Linked DNA regions of Homo sapiens. The protein of the gene in region 2 interacts with the protein of the main gene of each other region in a biochemical or structural test. Each region holds a gene or a part of one and is shown on either strand. Other genes may lie near its edges.

Region 1 (7,727 bases), on a different chromosome or scaffold from region 2:
TTTATCCCCATAAACTCAACTGAGTCAGCTGAGTCAGAAATCCTATGACCTTTATGTCGAAAAGCCTATTAACATTATTTCATCTCTTTAATTCTCACAATAATCTTGTAATTATGTAAAGGAAAGTTTCTTTACTTTGCAAGTGGAAAAACTGAAATCATAGTCAGGGAAAACATTTGGCTGAGGGTGATTCACAAAGTGAGTCTCAGAAAGCAGGCTAATATTCACAATCTCAAACTCTTAAATACAGAGGAAATATAAACCACATTAGTTTGTTTGTTTGTTTGTTTGTTTTAACCATTTAACCCCTAAGCCCACAATAGTAAACCTACAACCCACCTCTCTGAAGAAAAAAAAAAGAGAGATGAAACATACACAACTTTAATACACAAAGAAGAGTCTGAATTGCAGTTAAGGCTTTGAGTTCCTAGCTGGTTTGGAATTAGGAAGCAGTAAAGGGCAAATGTGTGAAATACTGAGATCATCTCACCTTTTACTTCTTTACATGAAAGAGCAAGATCTGTTTATCAGGATCACTTTTGATAAGCACAAAGAAGTCATGCCGGATACGTTTCTACTTTAATTCCATGACCCAAATCCATGCTAGCTGAGAATACGTAATTGAATTATTCAATTTAGGTAGAAAACCATCTGCTCAAACCCTTAAGTCTTCAATTCTTGCTGCTATGAAAACAAAGTAAGGCCGAAGTCAAGGAATTGAAGTTGCAGCAAACCTCGTCCAAGGAGACAAACAGCAACAAAGTGTGGGCATTTGCAAAGTATGATCAGCACAAACAGCATCAGGCCCCCAGCTATTCCACTGCAACACTGATAAGGAAAGTTCAGACTTTGCTCCTGGAGCCCTTTTTGTAATTTCCTCGGTCATATCCAACTGCACTCTATGCTTAGTTTATTTTTTTGCCAAGAAGACTGATCTTAGCCACCTAAAAATTCTCATTGCAAAAGAAACCTCTTGTTTAAACCCCAAGTGCAACCGACAGCCCCTTTCCAATTAGCCCCTGCAACTTGCCCAGTCTCTTTCATGCCTGGCTACTGAGCTCAGTCTAGTTTGGCTGCCGGCCAGGTTCCTCTCTTTTTTTCCTTGTCAGTCGTAAAAACTTGGAAAACACTCCTGGACAGCTCAAGGAGACCTTTAATTATGCAGTGGGGCAGTACCTTAGCCTGTCTGCTGTTTCCAGCAAAGCCTGTAGTCACCAGCGACTGCACTCTCCCAATTTGTGGGTTTTCCAGCCAAGGCTACTTGTTCATATGGGGGGAAAAGGGAAAGACTGGCAGAGAAAGGGAGCAATTTGCAAATTTGAAGAATTTCCAATTCCTCTGAAAGTTTTCCACTTCCTCACATTCACTCTGTCTAATAATCTCCCTTACTTTAGCACCTAATCACCCATTTTGTAATACAGACACAAAATCATCAGTATTGTCTCCTGCTAGTCCTAGAAATCAGTCATGACTTGAACATTCTCCGTAACTTTTTATTCTCAAATGTTGGTGTAACGTATTTTAAAAGCAGGCACAAAATAAATTTATTAAATCCTTCCTAATTGACTGCATTACACTTTGTCAAACTTGCAGATTGAAATAGTGCATGTAAAATGTCTGATTGCAAATGAGTAAGGCGAGCTCAGTTGGGAAACACTACTAGGACCTAGGGAGGGGTACCTTGACTGCCAGCCCTCACTTACTTGGAGTTTGCCCAGCGTACCAAGTGGACCCGCCAAGCCCAACACCAGCTAAGTCTTCCTTACTCTACCTTGGCACGCTAGTTCCAGCTGCAGCGTCCAGCTTCCTGTTCAAGTCCCATTCAACATCGTAAACACATTCCAAGAAAACCAGCCTGCCCAGAGTTCCCTCCCGCACACAGGGAAGTCAGCGCGGCAGCCGCAGGAGCCTCAGAATAGAGAGAACTGCCTGCTCCGGATTCTGATCCGTGTGGCGAGTGAGGCCACGAGAAGGTGGACCCGGCCAAGCGAATTTAGCAGTCGGAGCGAGAACCCAAGGGCTCATCACCCCCGCCGCGCCTTGCGCCCTCCAGAAGAAGCTACTTGACCCGCGCAGCAGAAGGGTAACCATGTGGACGCCGCCCCTTCCTTTGGGCCCTCCCAGCTCTGAGCTTTAAAGTATCCGCGGCCCGGCCTCGGAGCTTCGCGCCTCCCCACCCCCATGCCCACATTCTCTCCCAGCGCCAACAAAAGGGAGGCTGCCCTGGAAGTTCGCTCCTGGGTCGCCTCGCTGTGACCCGACGATGACTTGCCTGCTCAGCCCAGTCTGATCCACGCACCCTCAGCCGGACGGATCCACGGTTTCCCCACCGCCTCCCTCCAGTTCCTGCTCACCGGCCCCCCGCCGCCGGACCAAAGTTACCACAAAAGGCTAAGGAGGTTTCTGGAGCCCGGAGACCGCTGCGTCCCCGACCTCGCTGGACTCCCCCAGTCATTTCTCAAGCGCTGCCATAGCAGGCGTCAACAGGTCTTAGCCTCCTTTAGTGCTGGACGACTCCCTGAGCATTTAGCTGTCCTAATTTTTTACAACCTGCTGGCCAGCGGCTACGCGCAGCCCCGCGCCCTCCTTCCCGGGCACTGGTGGCCGGAGCTGTCCACCCCCACCGCCCCTCGGGATATCAGCTTCTAAGCGATTCCACGCTACCTGGAGGGAGCCTGGGTTCGCAGCCAGGGAAGAGCCTAGATAAATCTCCGTACCTCACTGAGAGAGGCAGTCGGGTCAGGCTTCGGGCAGGGGCGTGGAGAGCTGCCGGTTCCTCCGAGCCTGGCGATCTCCACTCCGGCACGGCCGGGGCGCCGTCTCCGAGGCCGAGAGGGAAAGTTTCTCTACGCCAACACGGCGCTGGACTCGGGACCCTCCAGCTTCGGTCCCCTCCCTCTTCGCGCTCTCTCCCCCCTCCCTCCTCTTCCTAATCCGCCGAATCCAAAACTGGCGCTGGCGGCAGCTGGGACGCGGGGCTGGGGACTCCGGGTCGCTCCCGGCCGGGAACGCCGGGCTCCCCCTCTCGGTGAGAAGGAAACTCTAGCCGACTCCGGCTTGCGCACTTCTGGCGGTCTCCTTGGACATTTCCACACGGGACGCCTGTGTTCAAGCTCGCTGACTTTCCTTCTTTAATCTCTGATGGTCGTTATCTGTGGGCCCACTGGACTATCTCGCGCGTGCACGCGGAACCGGAGGTGGGTGGAGGGTGGAATGAGAGAGAAACCCATCCGCAGAAGGAGGGGCCCTACCTTACTCAGTCTTCAGCCCGGACAGAAGCAAAACCACAGGCCCCCTCTCCCACCCCACTCGCGCCGCGTTTCCTTTCCAGCCTCTTCCCTGAGACACTAGATCAGGACCATTTGCCTTTTCTTATCTCTGTGTGTTTCCTAACACAATTTTAAAACACCTCTGAGGCTTCATAGAGGGGTAAAGTGTCAAAAGAAATACACGAATAAGAGTAAAACGTGCCGTCTTCACAGCCTTTATCAAGAAAGCAGCCACAGTTGCTGCTGCTCTGGCCGCACCTCAGCGGACTGGTTTGTCCTCATTGGTTTGTCCTCATTTGTTTTTTAACTCGGCCTTAATCTCTGGACTTTGTTATGCCTTAAAACAGACACACACATACACACACTTGAAAATTGCCTTAACCCCCAGATCATACTCATTTGTTCCATTCAGATGTTTACCTCGGAATTAAGGACTTCTGTATAGGATTTGAGAGAAAACACAACAGCCCATTCTTACTGACCTTTGGTAAAGTTCTGCGTGGGAAAGGGAGCAAGAAGGAGTATCCTTATATAAGAAGTTCTTCAAGGATGAGAGGACCTTTACTAAAATTTTTTCTGCTGCTCAGAATTTAGTTTACTAAATTTTAGTTTGAGTGTGAAAATAGATGAGAAAAGGAAAAAGGCATTTTGCAAAGCTAGCAGTTATAATGTATTACAGTGGATCCAGGGCTTAGAGTCAGACAGGCCAGATTCCATTCCAAACTCCATCTTTACGCTTTCTGTGCCTACCAATTATAACTGTCAACAGGAATTCTATAATCTAGCTCACGGAGTCACAGTCACATTTACAGGAGTTAAAATAGAGTTGTGATAGGCGCAGAGAAAATACTCAATAAATATTTGGTTCTTATATCCCACCATGTTTTACTGTAATTAGGAGAGAGGGTGGTGCTAGAAATTTTCCCCCAAAGACCCTGTAACTGAATCAGTTTTCTTCTCCTTAATGCTTTTTCCATTTAAAAAGGCATCATTTCACAATTTTTGAAATGGAAACTATGTTTACAGATTAACTAGTTCCAGCTGAACTCCCTTATTTTAAATACAAGGTAACTGAAGTCTAGGGCTCTTAAGTGACTTTCCCCAAATCTCATGGTTTGGAGGTACTAAAGCTAATATCAGAAATCAGTCCTCATAATAACTTGGCTGGGGTCCTCTTTTAACTGTTTTTCTCTTTATCACAATAGTCAAGCACACATAAAAATAATTATATTAAAAATATTAATCTCAGGACAAATGCTAGTTTTTTTCTGTAAATAACTCTTAAGCAATTAATTTATGAACAATCATTAAAAATTAAATAATGTCATTTAGATGATCACTTGGTATCAATGTGATTATAAAAATAAAACAAATGGTAGTCCAGTATTTAGGAATAAGGAGGTTGATGAGATGAACGAATCCATGCTTACATTATATATTTACACATAGATATTTTGGGTTTTTTAGCCATAATATTAAAAGATTATAATAACTCTCGATTCCCAAGAATACATCAACATACCACTACAGTTGGCTGACCCTAGTTTGTGAACAACTAGATCAGTGTTCAGGACACACAATTCAACTTGAACAAGTTCAAGGCCAAAGAACAAAATCAGGCTACAGAGATCAAACTTTCCATCCTGTGAAATAATGGAAAATCCCATAGCATGTACTTATTTCTCATTCATTTGCCTCTAGTACCTGTAAGAAGGTCTTTTTAAAAAATTCTTCCTTACCATATACAATGTTGAAAATCATCTGAACATTTACATAACTAACTCCCATGTTCTCAGGGATGAGACCCTATATACTCCTTCTAAGTAAGAGTTATTTACTACTCCGGCCTCATCCTCAGTTTCCTAAAGGCATATCATAGCCTCTTTAGAGATCTGTCTTTCCTATCCATAAGACTTGGAAGATCCTAAAGAGGGAAAAAAAAATATGGCTACAAAGCACATCCATCATGAATGGATAAATGAAGATAGATGAGTCCTCATAACTGTCTTTTTCCAATCGTTACATACAGTGCTAAAGATTACTCACTTTTATATTTTCTCCCACTGTTTAAAGTCTTTAAACTTGCTATTGCTTTGTAATTTTTATAACCTGACTTTTGATATGATCTTCTTTGTGAAATGGCTTAGAGGTATAAAAATCTCAAGAGTGTCAGAACCAAGTTTTTAAAAACAATAGAACCAAATGGAACAAGATTTTAAAACAAATTTATAGCATGCCCCAGGAAGTGAAGAAGGGAGATGCCAAAGAAAAGGGTTGCAGAAGCCTAGCAGGGCACTACGATGACAAATACGCCTAATTTTACCTACTGCAAATACCTCAGATTTCCATTTGAAAGTTCTTCACATTCATCATAGGTTCATATAGACCCTGATAGAAACTCAGCAGCTTTCCAGTAATTTTTATTTTTATTTATTTATTTATTTTTTTTTTTTGAGGCGGAGTCTTGCTTTGTCGCCCAGGCTGGAGTGCAGTGGTGCGATCTTGGCTCACTGCAAGCTCCGCCTCCGTGTTCACACCGTTCTCCTTCCTCAGCCGCCCGAGTAGCTGGGACTACAGGCGGCCGCCACCATGCCCGGCTATTTTTTTTTTTTTTTTTTTTTTTTTTTGTATTTTTAGTAGAGACAAGATTTCACTCTGCTAGCCAGGATGGTCTCAATCTCCTGACCTCGTGATCCACCCGCCTCGGCCTGCCAAAGTGCTGGGATTACAGGTGTGAGCCACCACGCCTGGCCTCCAGTATTTTTAAATTAATTTTCTTGCTCAAACCAGAATTAAGTTTCTCTTACCCTAACTAAGGGAACTTTGGCTAAGACAAAAAAACGACCTGTTACTTACCTTAAGAAAACCAATTTTATTTCTGATTATTGCAAAAGCACACAAAAAATATGCTGGTTGTTTAGCCCTATATTTCTGCAAAACCAACATTTAAAGTATTTGACAACTTTTTAAAAACTGTAATGAAAACCAAGACTGAAATTCAAATTTCAGTCATGTGATTTGAAAGGGGGTCATGTTTCTGTTTGTCATGTGTAACAGTGGCCAAATATCCTATGAGTTCCTAGGGGCTCTGGGTTCCAAAGTTACTGTGTTACATTTACCTTCAAACCTCTATCATTTTATCTGTCATTCTGAAAGAATCGCTTTATTTTGATCTTCTTGATTAAGAACATGAAACATGACCATTGCAAAAAAAGAAAAAAAAATAGGAGGGCAACTGCAAAAGGGAAATAAATATCACCTGTATTCCCATCACCAAAAGTACCTATTGCTCACATTTTCTCTATATGCTCCAAGGTTTGTTGAGGCCTCTGAGAGACCCGGATAAATAGTATCCCTTCTTTATGCCTGGGTGGGGAATAAATTGACCAAAAAAATGAGAGCAAAATATTACTCTATGATTGACAGATAACGGATTTGAATTGGTAGATCCAAAAGCAAAGAACTGAAACAGCAGCCTCAGTCAACGTAGTTCCTGGCCTCCTTCTAACCTGAAAGGAGACAGTGCCTTTGAAAAAGGATTTAAATTGTTTTTTGAGTTCTATTCCAAAGAATGAAAGAGAGAGAAAGGTAGTTGAGCCTGGCATGCCCAGCAATTCTTCCCAAGTTTATTCCTAAGTTTATCTACCAAATGTCATAACATCTCTCCAAGGGCAAGTAAGTAAAGACCCAGTAAAATATTTTTGCATGGAAACCAGGAGTAGAGGAAAGGCATTACCCAGCACCCACAGACACTTAACAATTTTCTTTCCATTTTTTTCATGTGGAAGTATAACGTACATACTACTCCTTTTTTTTTTTTTTTTTTTTTTTTTTTTGAGACGGAGTCTCCCTCTGTCGCCCAGGCTGGAGTGCAGTGGCGCGATCTCGGCTCACGGCAAGCTCCGCCTCCCGGGTTCACGCCATTTTCCTGCCTCAGCCTCCTGAGTAGCTGGAACTACAGGCGCCGCGCCACCACTCCCGGCTAATTTTTTTATTTTATTTTATTTTTTATTTTTAGTAGAGACGGGGTTTCACCGTAGCCAGAATGGTCTTGATCTCCTGACCTCGTCATCCGCCCGCCTCGGCCTCCCAAAGTGCTGGGCTTACAGGCGTGAGACACTGCGCCCGGCCCATACTACTACTTTTTTGTAAGTATTCTTTCAAAATATTTATTTTCATATGCATTTTTCGTTTACCTAAATGACATCATGTAAACTATTCCATCTTGGCCCTTAATTTTTTTTCTCCAAACACTTAAATTTTCAAATAATCTTAGTGAAAAATTAGCAGCTCAATCGCTTTAATTTTTATTACTTTCACTGTTAATAAAACTGAATAAGTTTTCATAAAGTTAATAACCGTTTATATTTTCTTTTGTGAGGTGGCTATTTATATATTCTGTACATTTTTCTCTTTTCTCTATTGTTTCATATATTTTTTCTTTTTCTTATTGATTTT
Region 2 (7,022 bases):
GTGATGAGCGCGACTGCCCAGGTGGGCGGGGGCAGGTGTGTGGTGGGTGGTGGCCTGCGGTGAGCAGGGCCCTCACACCTGCCTCGCCCCCCAGGTGTGAAACGCCCCAGATGCCCTCTGAATTACTTCGCCTGCCCTAGTGGGCGCTGCATCCCCATGAGCTGGACGTGTGACAAAGAGGATGACTGTGAACATGGCGAGGACGAGACCCACTGCAGTGAGTGACCACTGCACCCACTCAGTGCTCCAAGAGCCTGCTGGGCCCCACTTCTTAGTCCCCCCCAGCAAATGCCCCCTTGGAAAAGGGCATCCAGAGCCTTCAACCCCCTGCCCCACACCCCAACTCTTGAGGTCAGACTCAGAGACTCTGCCTCTAGCTGCTGCTGAGCCCCCCCACAGAGGGGTGCTGTGGGCATCTCTCCTGTCCTTCCCATGGCATCAGCCTCCCCAGGTGGGTGACCCCCACCCTTCCCCATCTAACTGTGGCTTCTGACTGCCCCAGACAAGTTCTGCTCAGAGGCCCAGTTTGAGTGCCAGAACCATCGCTGCATCTCCAAGCAGTGGCTGTGTGACGGCAGCGATGACTGTGGGGATGGCTCAGACGAGGCTGCTCACTGTGGTAAGGAAGCTGGGATTGGGCCGGGGGAGGTGCCCCAGGGAGGGACAGACCCCACCCAACTCCACCCCACACACAGACACCCCTGCAGACGACGGCGAACCATCACCTCCACTGCTAGACCTGATCTACCCGCTCCTAAGTCTCTCAGTGGCCCTCTCTCCCCCTACAGAAGGCAAGACGTGCGGCCCCTCCTCCTTCTCCTGCCCTGGCACCCACGTGTGCGTCCCCGAGCGCTGGCTCTGTGACGGTGACAAAGACTGTGCTGATGGTGCAGACGAGAGCATCGCAGCTGGTTGCTGTGAGTGGCGGGGCCACGTGGAGCGGGTGGACAGCAAATGGCCACAGTCTCACTTTGCAGATGGGGAAGCCGGGGTGCAGGAGAGGAAATGCCTCAGCGGGGTCCACTGGGGGCGGAGCCATAGCTGTAGCCCAGGTGTCCAGACTCCTCATCCAGTGCCCTGCCCACTCTACCAGGAGAACCACAGGAGGTTAGAGTGAGGGACGGTCGGCCGCTGGCCAGGCAGGGCTGAAGGGCTGTGTCCACCTCTGTCCACAGTGTACAACAGCACTTGTGACGACCGTGAGTTCATGTGCCAGAACCGCCAGTGCATCCCCAAGCACTTCGTGTGTGACCACGACCGTGACTGTGCAGATGGCTCTGATGAGTCCCCCGAGTGTGGTGAGCCTTCGGCGGTGGTGGGAGGAGGCCCTGCCCTCTGCCGGGCCAGGGCATCAGCCTCACAGGTCCATTCCTCCCCCAGAGTACCCGACCTGCGGCCCCAGTGAGTTCCGCTGTGCCAATGGGCGCTGTCTGAGCTCCCGCCAGTGGGAGTGTGATGGCGAGAATGACTGCCACGACCAGAGTGACGAGGCTCCCAAGAACCCACACTGCACCAGCCAAGGTGGGCCCCAGACCTGGCTCCCCTCTGCCCCCTCCCCAGACTGCCTGAGACCCCGCTGACCTGCCGCCTCCGCCCCTCCGCAGAGCACAAGTGCAATGCCTCGTCACAGTTCCTGTGCAGCAGTGGGCGCTGTGTGGCTGAGGCACTGCTCTGCAACGGCCAGGATGACTGTGGCGACAGCTCGGACGAGCGTGGCTGCCACATCAATGAGTGTCTCAGCCGCAAGCTCAGTGGCTGCAGCCAGGACTGTGAGGACCTCAAGATCGGCTTCAAGGTATGCCCAGCCCTGGGGAGGAGCTTCCACACCCCAGACGTGCCAGGAACGCCTTTCTCCACTGCCTTATTCATTCATTCATCCCCTAGACAGTGGGGATACAGCAGTGAATGAGACAGAAATCTGCTTGGTTGGGGTCTGCCTCTATCTGGCAGGTAGAGAGCCAGCAGATTTGCTGACAGATGAGATATGCAGTGTGAGAGGAAGAGAGGAGTGAGGCATCAAGTAGGCAAGAGATACACAGGTCTGGAGTTCAAGGAGAGGCCCAGGCTGGAGAGGGAAGTCTGGGAGTTATCACCATAGAGATGCTATTTGAATCTGTGAGCCTGGATATGATTCCCAAGGGAGCAGTGTAGGTGGAGAAGAGAGGAGTCCAAAGTCTGAGCCCCGAGCTGAGCAACAGCCAGGAGCAGGGAAGTGAGGGGACCAGCAGAAGAGCCTGAGAAGGAGCAGCTGCTGAGGCAGGAGAACAGCCACGAGAAGAAAGCATTTCCATGGGGAGGGCACACGCAGCTCTGTCAAATGACACTCGGGGGCACACAGAAGGAGGCCTGCACTGTGGGCCAGCTGGGTGGGCTCAGTACCCATATGCTGCTGCCCCTAGTGAGGCCGGGTAGAGGGAATTGGAGTCTCTGAGCCAGGTCTCCAGGGTGGGAGGCCCAGACCCTGCCACATGCCCAGCCCAAGGCTCCCTGTGCCTGCAGTGCCGCTGTCGCCCTGGCTTCCGGCTGAAGGACGACGGCCGGACGTGTGCTGATGTGGACGAGTGCAGCACCACCTTCCCCTGCAGCCAGCGCTGCATCAACACTCATGGCAGCTATAAGTGTCTGTGTGTGGAGGGCTATGCACCCCGCGGCGGCGACCCCCACAGCTGCAAGGCTGTGACTGGTGAGATGCGCGCTTGGAGGGCATGAGGTGACCCAGGCTGTGTGGGACTGCCCGGGTGGCAGAGCTCCAGACAGGCAGGAGACCAGGGCCGCTAGAATGTGCCAGGAGCTGAGGCAAGATCCTCTGTCTGCAGACGAGGAACCGTTTCTGATCTTCGCCAACCGGTACTACCTGCGCAAGCTCAACCTGGACGGGTCCAACTACACGTTACTTAAGCAGGTACCAAACCCAGGCCCTCCTCCCCGCTGCCCATCTCCCAGACCCAGCACAGCCTCCCTTGCAAGTCTCCCCGCTTAGGTCCAACCATCCCTCCCCCAGATGCAAATGTGGCCCCTGTTGCCACAACCGACTTCTGCTGTCCTTCACTCCCCAAATCCAGGGCCTGAACAACGCCGTTGCCTTGGATTTTGACTACCGAGAGCAGATGATCTACTGGACAGATGTGACCACCCAGGGCAGCATGATCCGAAGGATGCACCTTAACGGGAGCAATGTGCAGGTGAGGCGGGCGGCCCTCGGCGACCAACACTGGCCCGCCTCAGATGACTGTTTTCAGATCGTCTCTCCTTCCCGCCCCACCAACCCAAATTGCTTCCTTCTCACTCCACTAGTCACTATATGACTGCTTGTTCTAGCTGCTCACTCTCCTCTGGGCCCAGACAGCAAGGACTGGGAGATTCCTCTTGCCCTTCCCCTCGCTGCCAGCCTCATGTCTCCTTAATCATCAGGAAGTTCCCTGTGAGGTCTGGCCAAGCACTGTGAGGCTTGGGGCGTGGTCCCATTCACCTAGAGCCCCCTCTCCTAGAGCCTCTGCTGACACCTACACAGTGTCAGGCCCAGGACTGGGCATTTTACTTCCATGGTTCTCCCACCAGAGCTGTCAGAGGGAGCTCTACCCCATTTTACACGAGGGGAGGCTGAGCCTCACAGAGGCTTGCAGGTCCTCCCCCAGGTCACCCAGAGCTCTCCCTCCCCTGCCCCTTCCTGCAGGTCCTACACCGTACAGGCCTCAGCAACCCCGATGGGCTGGCTGTGGACTGGGTGGGTGGCAACCTGTACTGGTGCGACAAAGGCCGGGACACCATCGAGGTGTCCAAGCTCAATGGGGCCTATCGGACGGTGCTGGTCAGCTCTGGCCTCCGTGAGCCCAGGGCTCTGGTGGTGGATGTGCAGAATGGGTATGTGGCTGAGGAGGGTTGGGGGAGCCCCTGAAAGCAGCATCCAAGCCCAGCCTCCCTGCAGGCCACTGGTGCGATGGGTTACGGGATCTCCCAGGGCTCACTGCCTACCCATCGCCAGGTACCTGTACTGGACAGACTGGGGTGACCATTCACTGATCGGCCGCATCGGCATGGATGGGTCCAGCCGCAGCGTCATCGTGGACACCAAGATCACATGGCCCAATGGCCTGACGCTGGACTATGTCACTGAGCGCATCTACTGGGCCGACGCCCGCGAGGACTACATTGAATTTGCCAGCCTGGATGGCTCCAATCGCCACGTTGGTCAGTGTGCCAGTGAGGCTGTCCAGGCACAGCAGACTCAGTGGGGATGGAGGTCTGAAGCGACAGGGGATCAAGTTTTGGGGGCAAGAGTGGACATAAAAAGCGGAGGATATGGCCTGAGGACACCACTCACTGGGGTGTGGGGTTCAGAGCACCCCGGGGGCTTCCCCAGCCTGGCCACCACCCAGCTCCCTTGGGAAGGAAGAGGAGAGGCCCTTCCCTTGTATACACAGTTCTGGAGGACTGGCCCCAAGGAGGGTGGGGGTGGGAGGCCTGCGATTGAGAACTGCAGTGCTCCCCACTTCCCGAGGGGAGCCATACACTGGCAGGGCAGGAACTTGCCATGAGGCAGTCTAGGTTTGAACTCCAGCTCTGACACTTGTTAGCTGTGAGACCATGGGGGGTCTGTACCATGAACCATCTGTAACTGGGGCTGACACCCACCTCTCAGGGTGGTGGTAGGGCTTGAGGAGGTGGAGTGGGCCGGCACCCTGTCCGAGCTCCGGCTGACTGGCACTGTGCCTGCCCCTTGGCCCTGCAGTGCTGAGCCAGGACATCCCGCACATCTTTGCACTGACCCTGTTTGAGGACTACGTCTACTGGACCGACTGGGAAACAAAGTCCATTAACCGAGCCCACAAGACCACGGGCACCAACAAAACGCTCCTCATCAGCACGCTGCACCGGCCCATGGACCTGCATGTCTTCCATGCCCTGCGCCAGCCAGACGGTGAGCAGGCAAGGGGTGGGAGCAGGCGAACGGTGAGCCAGGCACCGGGGTCCCTGGGAGTTCCTGCTCATCCCTTCTCTAGCATTGACCAAGCCCTCCTGGCCAGACACTGGGAGACTCCAGGAGGGTCTAGACAGGGGATGGTCTGGCTCCCGGGAGCTTCAGCCCGGCCTGGATCCAGCCCTGGAGTCTGGCAGCAGCAAGTCCCTGAGGCCAGTCAAGTGGGGGTCTGGGTGCCCAGCCCCCAGAAGGAAGGCAGGCCGGCCCCTGGGAGGGAAGCACAGAGGAGGTGGGGAGCTGGCCTTCAGGCCTGGCCTGATCCTGGGACCTTAGAATCCTCTCCTATCTCCAGCTTCAGCTCCCTCCTAAAAGAGGCAGGGTTCAGACCCACCCGCCTCTGTCCAGGATAGAGTGAGTGAGGCAGCCTTTGGTAGGCCAGAAAATGTCACCATATTTCACGACGTTTTCTCTGGCAGTGCCCAATCACCCCTGCAAGGTCAACAATGGTGGCTGCAGCAACCTGTGCCTGCTGTCCCCCGGGGGAGGGCACAAATGTGCCTGCCCCACCAACTTCTACCTGGGCAGCGATGGGCGCACCTGTGTGTCCAACTGCACGGCTAGCCAGGTGAGGCTGTCCCCCAGACCCCATCACCAGTGCCCGCTCCCCAACCCCCAAATCCTCCTTGGACCCCAACACCTGCTCTGTCCTAATGTCCTCATGCATCTGGTTTTCCCACACTAACACCCCCACATTTCTTGCCTACCTCTTGTCTCCCCACAGCAATACTTTTACCCCCGTCACCTCACACAGACACCTCCACACCCTAACCTTGACCCTCCTTGCCATGCTTCAGTGCTGCCTTCCCCACCCTATCCCACGCAGCCCCATACCTGGCCTTTCCGAACTCACCATAGCCCAACCTGCCCCATAACACCCTGACCCCTGCCTCAACTTCTTTGAAACATCCAAGCCCCTCAAAAGAAAGACTTCTGAGTCCCCCAGACCCCCACCAACCCCTCTTGCCCCCACCTGCCCTCCAGTTTGTATGCAAGAACGACAAGTGCATCCCCTTCTGGTGGAAGTGTGACACCGAGGACGACTGCGGGGACCACTCAGACGAGCCCCCGGACTGCCGTGAGTGCCTGCTGGGGGTGACAGGAGGGCCCCCAGCTGTGTCGGAGGCCTGACTCCTGAGGCTTTGAATGGCCACTGGAGAGGCTGGGGCTGTGGTGCCCTGCAAGTGGACCTGGCCGTGTCCACCCCAGCCGCTCTGACTCTGAGCCTCCCTCTCTGGCAGCTGAGTTCAAGTGCCGGCCCGGACAGTTCCAGTGCTCCACAGGTATCTGCACAAACCCTGCCTTCATCTGCGATGGCGACAATGACTGCCAGGACAACAGTGACGAGGCCAACTGTGGTAAGGCGCTGCCCGCCCACCCTCCCTCCTTCCCCAGCATCTTCCCTGCCCCAGGATTTGGGGCTTTCAAGTGCAGGGAAGTTGCAGCCCACGGCAGCTTGCTCTCCAGGCTGGATTCCTATGGCTCAAGCCTGTGTCCTCCCTGCTGAGGGATGGGCACCCTCTCCCTGCCCCTGAGTCCTCCCTTCGCCACGAATCACCTCCTCCTCCCTCCACAGACATCCACGTCTGCTTGCCCAGTCAGTTCAAATGCACCAACACCAACCGCTGTATTCCCGGCATCTTCCGCTGCAATGGGCAGGACAACTGCGGAGATGGGGAGGATGAGAGGGACTGCCGTGAGTGTCAGAGGTGGTGGTGGGCCGGTGGTGGGAGATGACACGGAAGCAGGGCAGGCAGAATCTCCCCACAGCTTTGAGAGGCTCTCAAATAACTTTAGTAGATGGGCAACACAAATTATATTGGGTGTAACTTGCTTTGCTCATAAAAATCATCATGCATGATATAGAGACATAGAGATCCAGAAAACAAAAAGCACCAAAACTGGGGATAAACTGTTCCTTCCTCCGAAGAAGTTGCTGGCAGGACCAAGGCCAGGGCTTGGAAGAGAGAGAAGACAGTGATGGTGAACTGGAGTGGCAGGTGTAAGGGAGGGCCCTCATTCTCTTGCCCACCCCACAGCCGAGGTG
Region 3 (7,022 bases), on a different chromosome or scaffold from region 2:
AGTTTCTTCCCCAGAGCCTGGGCCATCAGCAGGACACTGGGCTATACCAAGCCCAGGCAAGCACAAGGTCACCACACAGCTCAAGTGACAACACGCAGATCTGAGCCCAGGAGGTCTGACACTGACCACATTATCACAGAGAGCCACACTACCAAGCCTTAGCCAGGCCCATGGACAGGTGACAGAAACACCGTCATACTCAACCAAAATACCGGAACTAAAATGATGGGACTTTACATCATCTACGTTTCACTGGTATAATGCGCCTCCCAAGAAACTGGTTTAGAAAATTACGTCAAACAAATACATGAAGTAACTCACTCTAAACATAAAGAAGGCCAGGCGTGGTGGCTCAATGCCTGTAATCCCAGCACCTTGGGAGGCTGAGGTGGGAGGATCACTTGAACCCAGGAGTTAGAGACCAGCCTGAGCAACGAATCAAGACCTCATCTCTACAAAAACTTAAAATATTAGCTGGACGTGGTGGCACATGCCTGTAATCCCAGCTACTCAGGAGGCTGAGGAGGGAGGCTCGCTTGAGCCCAGGAAGGAGTTCAAGGCTGCAGTGAGCTATGATCATGCCATTGCACTCCAGCCTGGGTGATGGAGAGAGACCCTGTCTCTTAAAAAAGAAAGAGGCTGGGCGTGGTGGCTCACGCCTGTAATCCCAGCACTTTGGGAGGCCGAGGCAGGTGGATCACTTGAGGTCAGGAGTTCAAGACCAGCCTGGCCAACATGGTGAAACCCCGTTTCTACTAAAAATACAAAAATTAGCCGGGTGTAGTGGCATGTGTCTGTAATTCCAGCTACTCGGGAGGCTAAGGCGGGAGAATTGCTTGAACCCAGGAGGTAGAGGTTGCAGTGAGCCAAGATTGTGCCACTGTACTCCAGACTGCGTGACAGGGTGAGACTGCCTCAAAAAAAATATATATATATATAGATATATATAATTTTCCCTTAATAGAGAAATCACCCTCCATATTAACTCAATAATTTACAACATGTCAGTTTGAAGCTGTCATATGATCAGCCTTTCCATGGCATCCAGCGACTCAGCTCAGCTCTGGGAATAAGACACAGATGCCAAGAAATGGCTCCGTCTTCAGGGTCTTGTTAATAAGAAATGAGAATGAAAAGATTGTCCTGTCCCTAACAATAGAAAGTTACTGAAAAAGAACTATCACTTACGTGATTTTTTTAAACGCTCATCTAATCGTATTAATCATTTTTTTTTTGAGGCAGGGTCTTGCTCTGTTGCCCAGGCTGGAGTGCAGTGGTGCCATCACGGCTCACTGTAGCCTCGACATCCCAGCCTCAAGCGATCCTCCCACCTCAGCCTCCTAAGTAGCTGAGACTACAGGCGTGTGCCGCTATGCCTGGCTAATTTTTGTATTTTTTGTAGAGATGCCTCACAATGCTGCCAATTCCACCTTGCACCCCTGACTGATCACCAGCTAGCTGTTCTGCATATGGAGCTGAAATCTCTCTCCAGTGGCTTCTCCCCACTGGTCCTGGTTCCCCCGCTCAAGGATACGAGAAATTCGTTTGATTTCTCATCCCCAGGACAAGCTGCTCACTATCGGAAGTTGATGTGCGCGGAGCTTTCTCTCATCCAGGCCCAGATTCCTTCCACCATCCCATCCCCACATCCAACAAAGCAGGGGGCTATGGTAGCAAGACTGGAAATGGCGCTGCTCTGGATGGGGTGGTCAGGGCAGACTTCTAGGAGGAGGTGACTTCTGAGCTGAGACTCTAATGAAGAGAAGGAGCTAGGCTTGTGGAGAGCTGGGAGAAGTGTTCTTCAGCCACAGCAGTGTGTGCTAAAGCCTTGAGGCAGAAACTCCATTAGTTACTGAAAGAGGCCTGCCCGGCGGGGGTGGCACAGGTGAAGGGTACTGGTTGGCAGAGACCAGAGAGCCAGCCAGGGGCTAATCCTCATGTAGGGCTCTCAGGCCAGGGAGGAACCTGGCTTGTGTCTCAGCAAGATGAAAAGAAAGCCTCCCGTGAATTTAACCGGGGGCGGGCCTGATCCCATTTCCATTTTTAAGACCGGCCCCTGCCCCCAGCTGCTGCAGGGGAAGGGGGCTGAGGGCTGAGCCTGGAAAGGTGGTTACCTCGCTGCTCCTGGGAACCCCCCGGGCTTCGGGTCACAGGCCGTGCAGCTGCCACTGTCTCACACTTGCATGCCAGGTGGTCTTCCAGCGTCACCGTGGCCTTCTTAAAGATTGGCTTCTTCCGCACAATCTCGATCTTTCTCACCTGGAGGACAGAGCCACAAAATGCCTCTGTAGAGACCACACAGCCAGGAGCCCGGGAAGCCCGAATGGCTTGCGCTTCCCACCCCGGTGTCCCCTGCAGCAATCTTTCCTCGAAAGCCCGGAGAGCAGGCTGTGGGGCAAAAGCTTTGGCCCAAACAATAGCAGGACCTTGACCTCTGCCCTTCTCGTAGCTTTTCCATCAAAACAAGCCCTCCCGACCTGGGGCCCCCCTCAGTGCCCCCAGAGAGGGACAGCCAGAAAGGCATTTCCGGGTTGAGCTGGGGCCTGCGGTATCCTCATTCCCGGAGCGCCAGCCAAGGTCAGGGCTGCGGCAGAGGCGGGAGATGGTTGTCTGGAAGGAAGTGGGGGGAGGCTTCATCTAGGAGGGAGGTGGGAACGGGGAGGTCAGATGTCAGGTGTCCATCCATAGAGCTGGAAGCATCGAGGACAGGAGATACCACGAGAGTGGGCAGTGGGGTGGAGTGACATTCGTAGTCTCAGGCGTGGGGCCCAAGCCAGGGAGGGAAGGTGGGCAGGAGGAGAGGCCACGGGCTGGTGGCAGGAGAAGGAAGTGCGGCTAAGCAGGCAGAGCATCGGGCAAGGGCCGGTGCTGAGCTAGAGAAATGCGCACTGCCCAGCCTGTGGGCGAGGCTGGCCTGGGGCGTGCAGGAATCTTTCCACAAGAAGCAGAAGCAGCAGCTTCTCTGACTCTGCCCCGACTAGGGTGAGACCAGGGTGCTCCCTGAGACAGCCTCTACTCTAGAATTTTCCCTGAGTCCAGTGTATGTATCCCCCGTCCCTCCGAAGAAAAGCAGGATCAGCATTCCACTGTTGTCAGGGGACCTGCCCCAGCTCCGCAGTGTCTATCACCTGGTGGGCCTCTCTGCACTCTCTTTATTAAAGACACAGCTTGTCAAAGAGAGACAAGCAGGTGTCAAAGATGCAGGGCCACCCATCTGAGCCTTTCTCAAGACAGCCCTGAATAGGGAGAGCTTTGGGGGAACCTGAGTAGCTCCCCAAAACATTCTGAGTGTCAGATAAATGTTTGCGGATACGGCTCTTCAAGGGACGTTTTGCGATTTTGTCCTTGTAAAGGAGGTGACATCCCTACTTCACGTTGGCTCCACACCTCGCCCAGCCCGGGGGGTCTGTCTGTGGCTTTTGGCTACAGTGGCCTGAGCCACCTCAGAGGACTCATGGTCGGCCTCAGTCCACCTGCCTAGGAAGAGCTTCCCAAGAGTGGGCCTCTCTGGACAGAGCCCAGGAACAAATCAGGAATGTCCTTCGACACACCACTCTGCCCAGTCAAGGAAGCCTGGTCAGGTATGAGCCCCAGAAGGGTGGTCTCCACCCACCACCGGGACCAGCCTCGGGGGGCCGCGGAGCCTACGCACCTGGACAGGTCGCAGCTGCACCTGGGTGGGGCGGCACTGCACGTTGCGGTTGTTGCAGCAGCCGGAGCAGCGCTGCACCTCCACACAGGGCGGCCACACCAGGAAGTTGGCGTTGGTGCGGTCTATGAGGCGCCGGGAGATCTCGAACACCTCGGTGCGCGTCTTGCACTCGGCGATCATGGCCGGCTCAGCAATGGTCAGGGAACCTGGGAGGAGACGAAACCTGGGTCAGGAGCGTAGGCCTGTCCAGAGTCCCCCCACTTGGCAGGGGAGCTCAGCGGGTGCCTCCGGGACTGCTCTTTCTCACGCCCTTCAACCCCAGGGTTCAGGTTTCAAGTCCTGGCTGTCATTAGCCATGGGACTTGGGCAGATGGCTGAGCCACTCTAAGCCTGTGTTTCCCCATCTGAAAATGGGACCATGAGATCTACACCCAAGAACCACTGTAGTTTCAAGTGAGAAAATTCAGAGTGTGGGGCATGTTGTAAATGCTTAGTAAATGTCCGCTTCCCTCTGCTGGCACATGACTATTTTATTCTTCTTTATGATTTTACACATTTATGGGCTTGCCCAACATGTGGTTTTTATGCAGGTACCATATTAGCTCGAAACCACGCGTGCACTGCTGTCTCACGGTGCCTTGGATTCCTGCATCACTGCTGCTTTCAAAGCCTCAGCTTCCTCCTCTATGAAATGGGATAATAACAGCACCTCCCTCCCATGTGGATCTAAGGTGTAAAGTGAGTAAGCCTTGCCTACAGCAAGCACTGAGGTTACCGATGCTATCCATGTACAGAGGACAGGAGGCTCTGAGAGCTGAATATCCCGTCCGCCCACATTCATAGATTGGGGGTGGAACTCAGGCCACCTGACTTTTTTCTTTTTTTTTGAGACGGAGTCTTGCTCTGTCGCCAGGCTGGAGTGCAGTGGCGTGGTCTCGGCTAACTGCAACCTCCGCCTCCCTGGTTCAAGCAATTCTCCTGCCTCAGCCTCCCAAGTAGCATGGACTACAGGAACCTGCCACCACGCCCAGCTAATTTTTGTATTTTTAATAGAGACAGGGTTTCACCATGTCGGTCAGGATGATCTCCATCTCTTGACCTCGTGATCTGCCTGCCTCAGCCTCCCAAAGTGCTAGGATTACAGGCGTGAGCCACCATGCCCGGCCCAGGCCACCTGACTCTTATTCATCGTTCCCCCAGCCTCTAACTGCAGTGTTTTGGGGACTCCAGGTGTCAAAGAGGAGGAGGGGTTTGAGTGGACATTTGCCTCACCTGGGAGGGTTTCTCTGGGACCTAATGATCTACGGTCTCCTTTAGGTCTCTGCAAGGGAGCAGGAGGAAGTTCCAGGCTTTGCTCGAGGTCTACCAGCCTAGGCCGCGGCCCTTTGCCACAGGAGATACCCATAGCCCATCAGGGACCACGCTGGGTTCAAGTGAGGGGAGCAGGTTGGGATCTCAGCCCTACCGCTCCCTAGCAGTGTGACCTCGCCTAGTTCTTTACCCTCTCTGGGCCCCAGTTTCCAACTCTGTGAAATGGGGTTAATAATATCTACCTCCAGGATTGAAATAAGGAACGAATGAGCTTTGCAGCACTATATTTAGAAACCAGAGAGTGTGGGGGCGAGGGGCTGTGATGACTGAACACAGGCATTTAAGGATGGTTTTACTCTCTCAGTTCGCTCAGTCCTGAATGTGGGGGGAACGGGAGTTGTAAGAGGACCCTCGGGGCCCTCCGACTGGCTGCCCGCCCCCGTTCTCTTTCCCTGGCCCCCATGCTAATTTGAAGGACCCTTGTTGGGTGTCTCAGTCTTACCCAGGCTCCTTCTTCCACGAGCCAAGCTCTCCAGCTCGCCTCCAGAGTGGGAGCGGGTCATGTTCAGGTCCAACTCGGCCCCATCTTCCTCTGCAGGAGAAGTCACAGTCAGACACCAGGCGGCCCCACCTTGGGCAGGGGCTCCCTCCGCCGGGGTGTCTGGGCAGGCGGGAGGTTTGCCTCTCCCCCACTCCAGAGAACAGTCCCTCCTTCCAGCCCCCATAAATGCACGGGTCCTGGCCCTGAGCAGGGACCCTCCAAGCAGCCCCCAGGACAGCTGCAGGCCCAGGATCCTGACTGCATCCCTGGCTCTTTAGCCAACATTTTTGGCCAGAACCCATGTCAGTGGAGTTAAAAATAACCCTTCCCCTTTGCTACTGTAAGTGAACCCTCCTCGGCCTCCAGGGCGGGGCCGGGACCTAGGGCACTGAAGGCCAGTTTCCAGTGCCCCTCCACCCAGCGTTCCCATAGGAAGTGCTGAATGGAGAAATTCCCAGAAGCCCCAGGGGGACCGCATGCCCTGAACACAGCCCCTCTGGAGCCCCGGACAATGGCCGCGCTGGGCAGGCGGGAGCCACGGAGGGAGGGAGGGAGGGAGAGGGATGGGGGTGGGAGCTGAAGACAGAGAAGAGGAGAAGAGGGGTGGGAGTTGGGCCTGCTGGGGGTGGGGAGTCCCTGCCACACACCCTTCTAGGGCCTGGTCTCTCTAGCTCCGGGGCCCTCACACCGTATCTGTATCTGTGTCTGTCTCCCTCCCCTTCTCTAAACTGTTGCCCCACCTCTGCCCCCAGCCGTCTGTTGATTCCTCTGGTCACAAATGACAGCTCCCTTTTCTAGCCTGGGCACCATCTCAGTCCCATCAGCCCTCCTTGGAGACATCGGTCCTTTCCAGAGCCCATGGCCAGAGGTTGGCTGCTGGGAAGTGAGGGCTGAGGGAGGCCTCTGAGCTGGATGTTAAGGCGTGGACAGACCCTTCTGTCTCTCTCATGGGTGAGGAGCCACAAATAAACTAAGGGGCATTGGGAACACGCTCCTGCCACCTCCACACAGCACCCCATGGCTCCAGTTCTGGCACCGACCCACTGGCCCCATCCAAGACAAAGGCGCCTGCCGCCTGTCCGTCCCGGGTACTGCAGGGAGTCTGATGACTAGTCCGCTTCCGTCCAGCCTGACAGCCCCTACGTCAACGAGCCTATCTGTCCCTCTGGCTCCTTTCCTTTCTCCCTGCCATCTCTGGAATGTCCCTGGTGGGGAGGAGATGGGGAAAAGATGCGCTTTGTGGAAAGGTTAAGTTGATTAGGAAAAAATAGCCACATGGTTGCCTTGAAACAGGCCTGCTATTGAAACCTCATCTCCAAGATCCCGACCCCCACCAGGGGTGTGGAGGGGCCGTCTGAGGGTGGGGGTGTAAAGGCTTGGAAAGAAATGGTAGAAAGGCTAAATTTGGAAGTTGCCCCATTGTGTGTGGCCAGGGGCGGCCAGTCGGGCATAGGGTGGGGGTTGTGGGAGACATCGGGTGGGGGCCCTGGCGAACAATAGGTGGGCCCAGCTGGGGCC
Region 4 (7,022 bases), on a different chromosome or scaffold from region 2:
GTTGTTTGTTTTAAATTTGTCCCTCAAAAGGAAGCTGCATAAAGTTGACATACAGCAGATATTCCAAGCATTCCTTACATATTAAAAATAATTACAAAGATAATATTTTCAAACAACACAAAACAAATCTACACTACGTAAAGTCTTCCTTCTTTCAAAGAGGTATTCAGATGGTACTGTGAAAGACTAGCTCTAAATGAAAGACTGAACAAATTGAAATTCTTTGCTGATGGTATCTTCATTCCTGGGTTATGGTGAACATCCTCTTTTGCTTATCCCTCACCCTACTAAGATGCAGCAATTGCTTGGGGCTTTCTGATACTTAAGGATGCTGGTCCAAGTGGTGATCACTAACATTTTCAGGTGTGAAATGGGCTGAATGGGCTTAGAGCTCTAGTTTTCACTGGGGATCCATTTTTCCAAGAACCACTATTTCAGGCTCCCAACTTGACTTCTCCTAACCCAAAATGGCAGAGGTGAGGCAGGGACCCTCTCCATGAACAGACAGGATGGGCAGAAGGTTGCTGTGGCCTTCACTGGGGAGCAAAATTTTGTCAGCTCTGTCCTGGCCTCTTCCATTGAGCAAGGCACCTTCAAGTCTTGGTGTTCTGAATGTCCAGACACCTTCCCGAAGTCTTGTCTCTGGACAAGATTTCCTATGGGTCCCCTTGATCATTCGGCCTGAGTTTGGGGTTTCTTTTCCTGTTCCCTTTTCCCTTACCAAAAGTTCTCAAAAGATAAACCCTGGTTTCCTCAAGTCTAGTTTCAAAGCAATAAGTGTTCAGGTAGCAAACATCTTCTATCTCATTGCATCAATCTCATGATCACAAATGCCACATTTGGCTCCCAACCTGCTCCAGGCTAATCCAATTTTATGCAAAATTATCCAGAGGTGGGATGGTGGGCATAAGTCGGCTTGAGTGTGGTCCTCCAGTCGAGAACCTCTTGAGCACAGTTAGATAATGTAGGCACTTAAAGCACGAGGTCCAAGCAGCTTGACACATGTCATTCCAGAGCCACCTCTGAAGGGTCCTTCAGAGGCCTTCGTTTTGGAATGTCTCAAATACCATGCCCCACCTCCACCTAGACCTTGGGATGGCCACTCAGAAATTCCTCCCGCACTGCCGGTAAATGCAATGCCAACTCCACATAGCCTCCATTTGGCTGTTCAGTCTCATGTCACTGGCAATGTGGATTCCTGTTCTGATCTAGGTGTTTCTGGGTTGATACAGGGCTCTACCTTTTGCTTACAAGACATTGTTAAGCCTCACCATGAGTTTTTTTTAAGCTTAGCCATGATTTACCCAAATGTTCACTCCTCATAAAAAATAATCTTCATTTTGGGGTTATTTTTTGTTGTTTTCTGTTCTAAAAAAAAATCACTGTTCTCCATGCTTATACGAGTGTCATGATGTGACACAATGTGTTCACTTGTTCACAGCAGTGGTAAAATATTTCAGAACGCGCAACTGATTTTTCTTCCTTAAAACAAAACAAAGAGGAGACCAGAGGGGGAGGGGGGGAAAGAATGTGTTCTGAGCAAACATAGGTCCTTCCGTCAAAAGCAGCTTACTCTGACCAACGCCCAAAGAATGAGCGGGGCCTGGGAGGTGCATCACGGGATGTGGAGTGTGAGCATTTTTTTGTTCAGTTGCCTTAATTTTTATTCACTTTCTAGTCATCTGATCGATATTGCAAACATCTTCACAACATACAAATGTATCTTTTATCAGCCAGAATATATATTGTAGGAATTCTTTCCCCATCTCTACTCCCTGTGGGAACTAAAAAACAAAACAAACAAACGAAAAAAAAACACAAAACAAACAAAAATATACCCCCCATCCCCCATCCCCTAAGCCAGTAAAGCAATGACAACAGCACCTTGACATTGTTTTAATTCCAACGCTATCAGAAGTTAAAAGCAGTAAAACAGATATAGTACTAACAAGAACGAAGATACTTACTGTCTAAAATGTAAACGGAATGTTTTGGTTCAAATTTTTGTTGTGTGTGTGTGTGTTTTTTTTCTGTTTTCTGAAAGAGGACAGTTTATTATCAATTCACAATTAAAGCAGCATGCAATTTATTATTTTTTTTAACTTTTTATGTTTTCAGTTCTTGGCAACGGCAACAAACCACAACATTATCAAGGAATGTAATGCAGACTTTTTAAGTTGTGCGCAAATGACTGTTTCCCTTCTGGTCATGGACATGTCCAATAAATAGATTGTAGAACCACTGTACTGTATAAACTTCATTTATACATGCAGTTCATAAAATTATTTTTTTCTTAACTGAATAATTTACCCTGTTATGTATATATACAAATAGATAATTTTTGTCTCAATATAATCTAATCTATACAACATAAATCCACTATCTTCCCCTTTTAATGGTCAATGTACATACACAAGAAGTGTCTATCCTTATGAATCGCCAGCCAATTCTCTTTTTGCTATCCATGGTAAGGGCCCGCACGTACGACTGGGTAGTTCGGCACTGGGAGTTCCAATGCCTTTTGTCTATGCCCCTGCAGCCTTCTTTTGTGTAACCCATGGGATTGCACTTGGTCTCGTAGAAGTATTGCTTCAGTTGGCCTTTTGATACAGGGACCTTTTCAAGGACTGTGACCGTCCCGCCCGACATGTCCACTGCAGTCTTTTTGTCTGCCGCCGTTACCCACTCACTAATACTGTCACACACGCTCAGCTCCCCTCGGCGGGCAGGGTCAGAGTGGCGCCGGACCCTCATGGACATGTTTGCAGCATCTAGGTAATTTTTGTATTCCTCCAGCAGAAAGAGAAGAGGAGGCTCCAAAGGCACTTGACTACTGAGCATCACCCTGGACGTGTACAAGTCTGCGTCCTTATTGTTTTCTTCATTGGGCCGAACTTTCTGGTCCTCATCCAACAGCTCTTCTATCACGTGTTCGAAAGTGTCAGCCAATGATGTCAAGCCTCTTGAACCTGCCTTGGGCCCATTCACGCTCTCCAGAGTCCCATGGGTCCGCACACCTGGGTAGGCCAAGCCACCTTGTCCTCGGATGTTTGCTTCTTTCATGGGGGCAGCCTTCATGCAACCAAAGTATGAAATAACCATAGTAAGGAAAAGGATGGTCATCACTCTTCTCACCTGGTGGAACTGTAGGGAGAAAGCAGAAACAAGACAGAAAACTGGTTAGGGCTTTCTTTCACCGGGATGCCATGTGGCCCATCTGATTGTAATTCCAGGCCATTCTGCAGGGTCAAGGTTTTTTTATGTCTTGGTGATAAACTCCAGCTGCACCAGACACAAATCAGTGTCAGTAGTGTGCTGTATGTGGTTTAATATAAACCAGAGACATGCAGTGTTTCCCCCAAGATCTAGCATATAAACCTGAGATTAGATGGCTTCTAAGCAAGTGCAAAAATTGTGGCTTCAAGTTCTCCTTCTTCCCACTTTAGCAGCTTTGTAAGTTTAATTTTTAATGATCTCTGCTCATGCTGTCACGAGAAACACAAAATCATAAATGTTACTAAGCAACAACTGCAAGTGTAATTAATAGTAATTTTTTTCAAGTTAGCAACATGGTCCTTTGCAGGAATGTGTGACAGGAACAGCAGTGGCCTGAGGGGTCTGATGGGCCTTTCTAGCTATGTGATGTCTAGGCATGAATAGCACAATAAAACAGCAGTTGGGGAACTATAAGGAGCCTTTAAATTGACTTTTTTTTTCCTCTTCCCACAGAGATACTCTATTATAGCAAAGAAGAAAGATAATTTCATTGAGCCATCCTGTTTTACAGGTAAGGAAACCAAAGGCCATAGAAGACTTGCCTTATGTCATGAAGAAAGTTTATGTTAGAACTCAGGGCTCCCAATTCCACTGTTCTTTATTCTACACCTGGGTGGTCACAACTGAAAATGTTTTGCTTATTTCTAAACAGAAATCATTTTTTGACATGTTCATTTTAATGATGTGTCTATGCCTGGGGCTAATGTCATGAAAACAATGTGTCTGGTAAGGAGAAAACTGAAAAAGTCAGCATTAAAAAGACATTTAAGTCCATTTCAAATGCCTCCCATATGCAGACTCCACTTTATCTCCTCCAGTTCTCTAAAACCCTTCACTCCTTGGCTTTTTCTGGCTAATACACACATCTAGCTAAGAAAGCTCAACTTTTCTTTTTACTAGAGATGTTCTCTCTGTGTGTGTGTGTGTGTGTGCGCGCGCGCGTGTGCGCGCGCTCTGAGTTTATCCTACTTTTAAAAAGCTGAGTGGTGTTTTACACATTTTGGAATAGGCAGCTAGTGCTTCTTTTTCTGCTTTTGAAGTTTCCTGGGAAGTCCCTTAAAAGCATACCACAAAATTAATCTCTTCCTGTTTGCCAGAGGGTTGCTCTACTCTAAATTTGGCTCTACATCTACAAGCATGCTCTAGGAAGCCAATTAAAATGGATGAACAAGCAAAATGAAAACATACCTATGGACCAACCCAAGGTTACCGTCAGGTGGTGAAGGACTTCAGAATCACTTACCTGAAGCATTGTGTTTCTCAGCAGCAAAGAGTAGCATCCCCAGCCCTGACCCTAATTTTATTCCTACTTCTCAGTTCTGAGGCATGGACTTACAAAAAGACACATACATGCAATGGCCATCATGATATCCAAATAAGTAGGAAAAGGAACTGTGTTTCTGCCCATGAAGTTTTACTGAATTCAAAGGCAACCTACCTCCAGTCAATAGGTCAGAATGCAGAAATGGCTGAAAACTCTGGTATTGAAAAGCAAATGTTCTCCACTTTTGTAAGAAATAACATTTTCAACCACTAAGAGACTTTATTACCATCCCTAAACACACAAAAAAATTTCTTTTAGATTTACTCTCACTTTGCACGAATAGCAAACATGCTTAGAACTGCTTAGATTGCACAATGTTCTCAGATTAGGAAGGGAAAATTGGTTTGAATAAAATACAGATGTCTATTCCGCTAACAACTAAATCTTTGTGAATGTTCTGAGTCCTGTACCATCAAAGAAATAGATCGTCCATGGGGGTTTCTATTTCTGGTAGATTGTACTTACACACTGAATGAAAAAGCTTTCTCCTAATATTCCCAGTCCAAATAAAAACAACCCAAGGGGCACCTCTTATTTAGGTCAATAAAAGTTTGCAAATGTGGAATACTTTAGCCATCTACATCACACTGGTAGAGACTTTCTGTGATCAGCTATTTTTTAATACCATATTTAATCAAATCTAAGATACCATCATTGTGAAACTCGACATTTTATATATCACTAAGAAAGCAAAAATGCAGCCTGGGTGACCAGAGTGAAACTCCATCTCAAAAAAAAAAAAAAAAGAATTAATGAACTATAGTTTAATACATATTTACTAAGTGCCCACACTAACTACTTAAAAATGGTCCAAAATACTGAGGCATCTTAAGCTGTTGGAAAATTGTTTTGTTTTCACCACTACAGTAATGAGTCTTTGAATGATACCATTTTCTATACTTGGCTTCTAGTTTACTCTGCCTTTCACTGATCTTATCTTTTTATTAATAACTTTATGAGAAAAATAATTAATGCTTTATATATTGTTCTCTCAGTTCCATGAGCAAATATTTCAGAGGGAAAATTGGCATCTGAGTAAATATTACTTGGCTTTCATTCTGAAGCCCAAACATGGGTATTCCTCAAGCTGAGCATCTGCATAGAATTAGGAATTAACACAATGGTGACAAAGTCCAACCCCACATTGCAAGCCCTGCTCTCTGAGTGGCACTTCTGCAATTCTAACTAACTGTCTACTCACTTGTAAGGCCTTGAAGTTAAGTGGGTGCAACACCAAACTCAATACTTTTTGTTGGAACAGTGGTATCTCCTACCTTTTCTAACAATGGTTCCCTGATATTTTGGGCAACCCAGGCATAGGATAGAAATCCTGGAATCAAGTTTGACAATATATTTCCTGCATAGCCTTCCAATCCAGTCAGTAAAGATGTCCTGTTAATTTTTCCTTTAAAATATTTGTCCTGGCCATCCCTTTTTATCCATCCCACTGCCACCATCTTGGCTCAGCCCTCACCACCTCATTTTGTGACCACAACGTCCCGATGCTGTATCAGACACTCTTTCTGCTCCATTCAACTCTGATGACCACTTCCTGGGTAACCACCCTAATACTATTCTCTTACACAAAAACTGGCAATGGCATTTTTGTTCTATCTGCTCAAATCTAATGTCTTCTCTCTGATACTCAACTCTCTCCAACATCTGCCCTCACCCTTCTTAGCTAACTTTCTCAAACTACTCAATGCTTCATCACTTCTGCTCCGATCAGGACAGAGTCCTTGGAGTGCCGTACACATTACTGCCTCCTGACTTGTTCCATTCCTCTGACAAACTCCTCTCTCCCTCTCACTTGCTGCCAAAATCTTGCTTATCCTTCATGATCCAGTTCAAGCATCAAATCATGCATGCCCCTTTCTCTAATTACTCCAGCATACACTGCCTTCCTTCCCTAAAATTCCACATTACATCTTACGTAGTACTTGATTCCCTTCTCACTTGTTTTGTTTTGTTTTTTTCCCAAGACAGAGTCTTGCTCTGTCGCCCAGGCTGGAGTGCAATGGTGCAATCTCGGCTCACTGCAATCTCCACCTCCTGGGTTCAAGCAATTCTCCTGCCTCAGCAGGAGGTAGCTGGGATTACAGGCGCCCACCACCATGCCCGGCTAATTTTTGTATTTTTAGTAGAGACAGGGTTTCACCATGTTGGCCGAGCTGGCCTACTCACTTGTTAATTGTTAACCGTATTTGCTCATTCTAGTCAGTCTTCAGCTGAAAGGTAAGTTCTTTGAGGGAATGGATCATGTCTGAGCCCCCATAATGCTTAACAGAGAAAAATGTAATAGCAGTACTCAGTAAAAACTTACTGATAGGTTTATTAAACTAAGAGAAAAGACAGTTTGGATATAATTTTCGTAAGAAGCCTTTTCATTTGGAAAGATCAGTGAACCCATTGAAATTCTCAG

What was found.
Region 1: the proteins of LRP1 (region 2) and GULP1 form a complex in vitro, tested with the Homo sapiens proteins (one study listed by BioGRID).
Region 3: the proteins of LRP1 (region 2) and PDGFB form a complex in vitro, tested with the Homo sapiens proteins (one study listed by BioGRID).
Region 4: the proteins of LRP1 (region 2) and BDNF form a complex in vitro, tested with the Homo sapiens proteins (one study listed by BioGRID).

The regions. Positions count from the first base shown.
Region 1 is NC_000002.12:188,287,157-188,294,883, reverse strand, and holds the start of GULP1 (PTB domain-containing engulfment adapter protein 1), read right to left. Parts: upstream 3,011-7,727; 5' UTR 2,718-3,010; exon of another isoform or gene 2,273-2,717; intron 2,057-2,272; exon of another isoform or gene 1,704-2,056; intron 685-1,703; exon of another isoform or gene 491-684; intron 1-490. UniProt on the Homo sapiens protein: May function as an adapter protein. Required for efficient phagocytosis of apoptotic cells. Modulates cellular glycosphingolipid and cholesterol transport. May play a role in the internalization and endosomal trafficking of various LRP1 ligands, such as PSAP.
Region 2 is NC_000012.12:57,194,483-57,201,504, forward strand, and holds part of LRP1 (prolow-density lipoprotein receptor-related protein 1 preproprotein), read left to right. Parts: coding exon 1-21; exon of another isoform or gene 22-94; coding exon 95-217; intron 218-502; coding exon 503-619; intron 620-788; coding exon 789-917; intron 918-1,175; coding exon 1,176-1,298; intron 1,299-1,380; coding exon 1,381-1,521; intron 1,522-1,604; coding exon 1,605-1,795; intron 1,796-2,499; coding exon 2,500-2,683; intron 2,684-2,816; coding exon 2,817-2,902; intron 2,903-3,062; coding exon 3,063-3,182; intron 3,183-3,673; coding exon 3,674-3,861; intron 3,862-3,982; coding exon 3,983-4,188; intron 4,189-4,729; coding exon 4,730-4,918; intron 4,919-5,394; coding exon 5,395-5,543; intron 5,544-5,959; coding exon 5,960-6,053; intron 6,054-6,216; coding exon 6,217-6,333; intron 6,334-6,551; coding exon 6,552-6,671; intron 6,672-7,014; coding exon 7,015-7,022. UniProt on the Homo sapiens protein: Endocytic receptor involved in endocytosis and in phagocytosis of apoptotic cells. Required for early embryonic development. Involved in cellular lipid homeostasis.
Region 3 is NC_000022.11:39,227,970-39,234,991, forward strand, and holds part of PDGFB (platelet-derived growth factor subunit B isoform 1 preproprotein), read right to left. Parts: intron 5,556-7,022; coding exon 5,466-5,555; intron 3,859-5,465; coding exon 3,653-3,858; intron 2,260-3,652; coding exon 2,115-2,259; intron 1-2,114. UniProt on the Homo sapiens protein: Growth factor that plays an essential role in the regulation of embryonic development, cell proliferation, cell migration, survival and chemotaxis. Potent mitogen for cells of mesenchymal origin.
Region 4 is NC_000011.10:27,655,442-27,662,463, forward strand, and holds part of BDNF (neurotrophic factor BDNF precursor form isoform a preproprotein), read right to left. Parts: intron 4,832-7,022; exon of another isoform or gene 4,715-4,831; intron 4,218-4,714; exon of another isoform or gene 3,145-4,217; coding exon of another isoform or gene 3,124-3,144; coding exon 2,380-3,123; 3' UTR 1-2,379. UniProt on the Homo sapiens protein: Important signaling molecule that activates signaling cascades downstream of NTRK2. During development, promotes the survival and differentiation of selected neuronal populations of the peripheral and central nervous systems.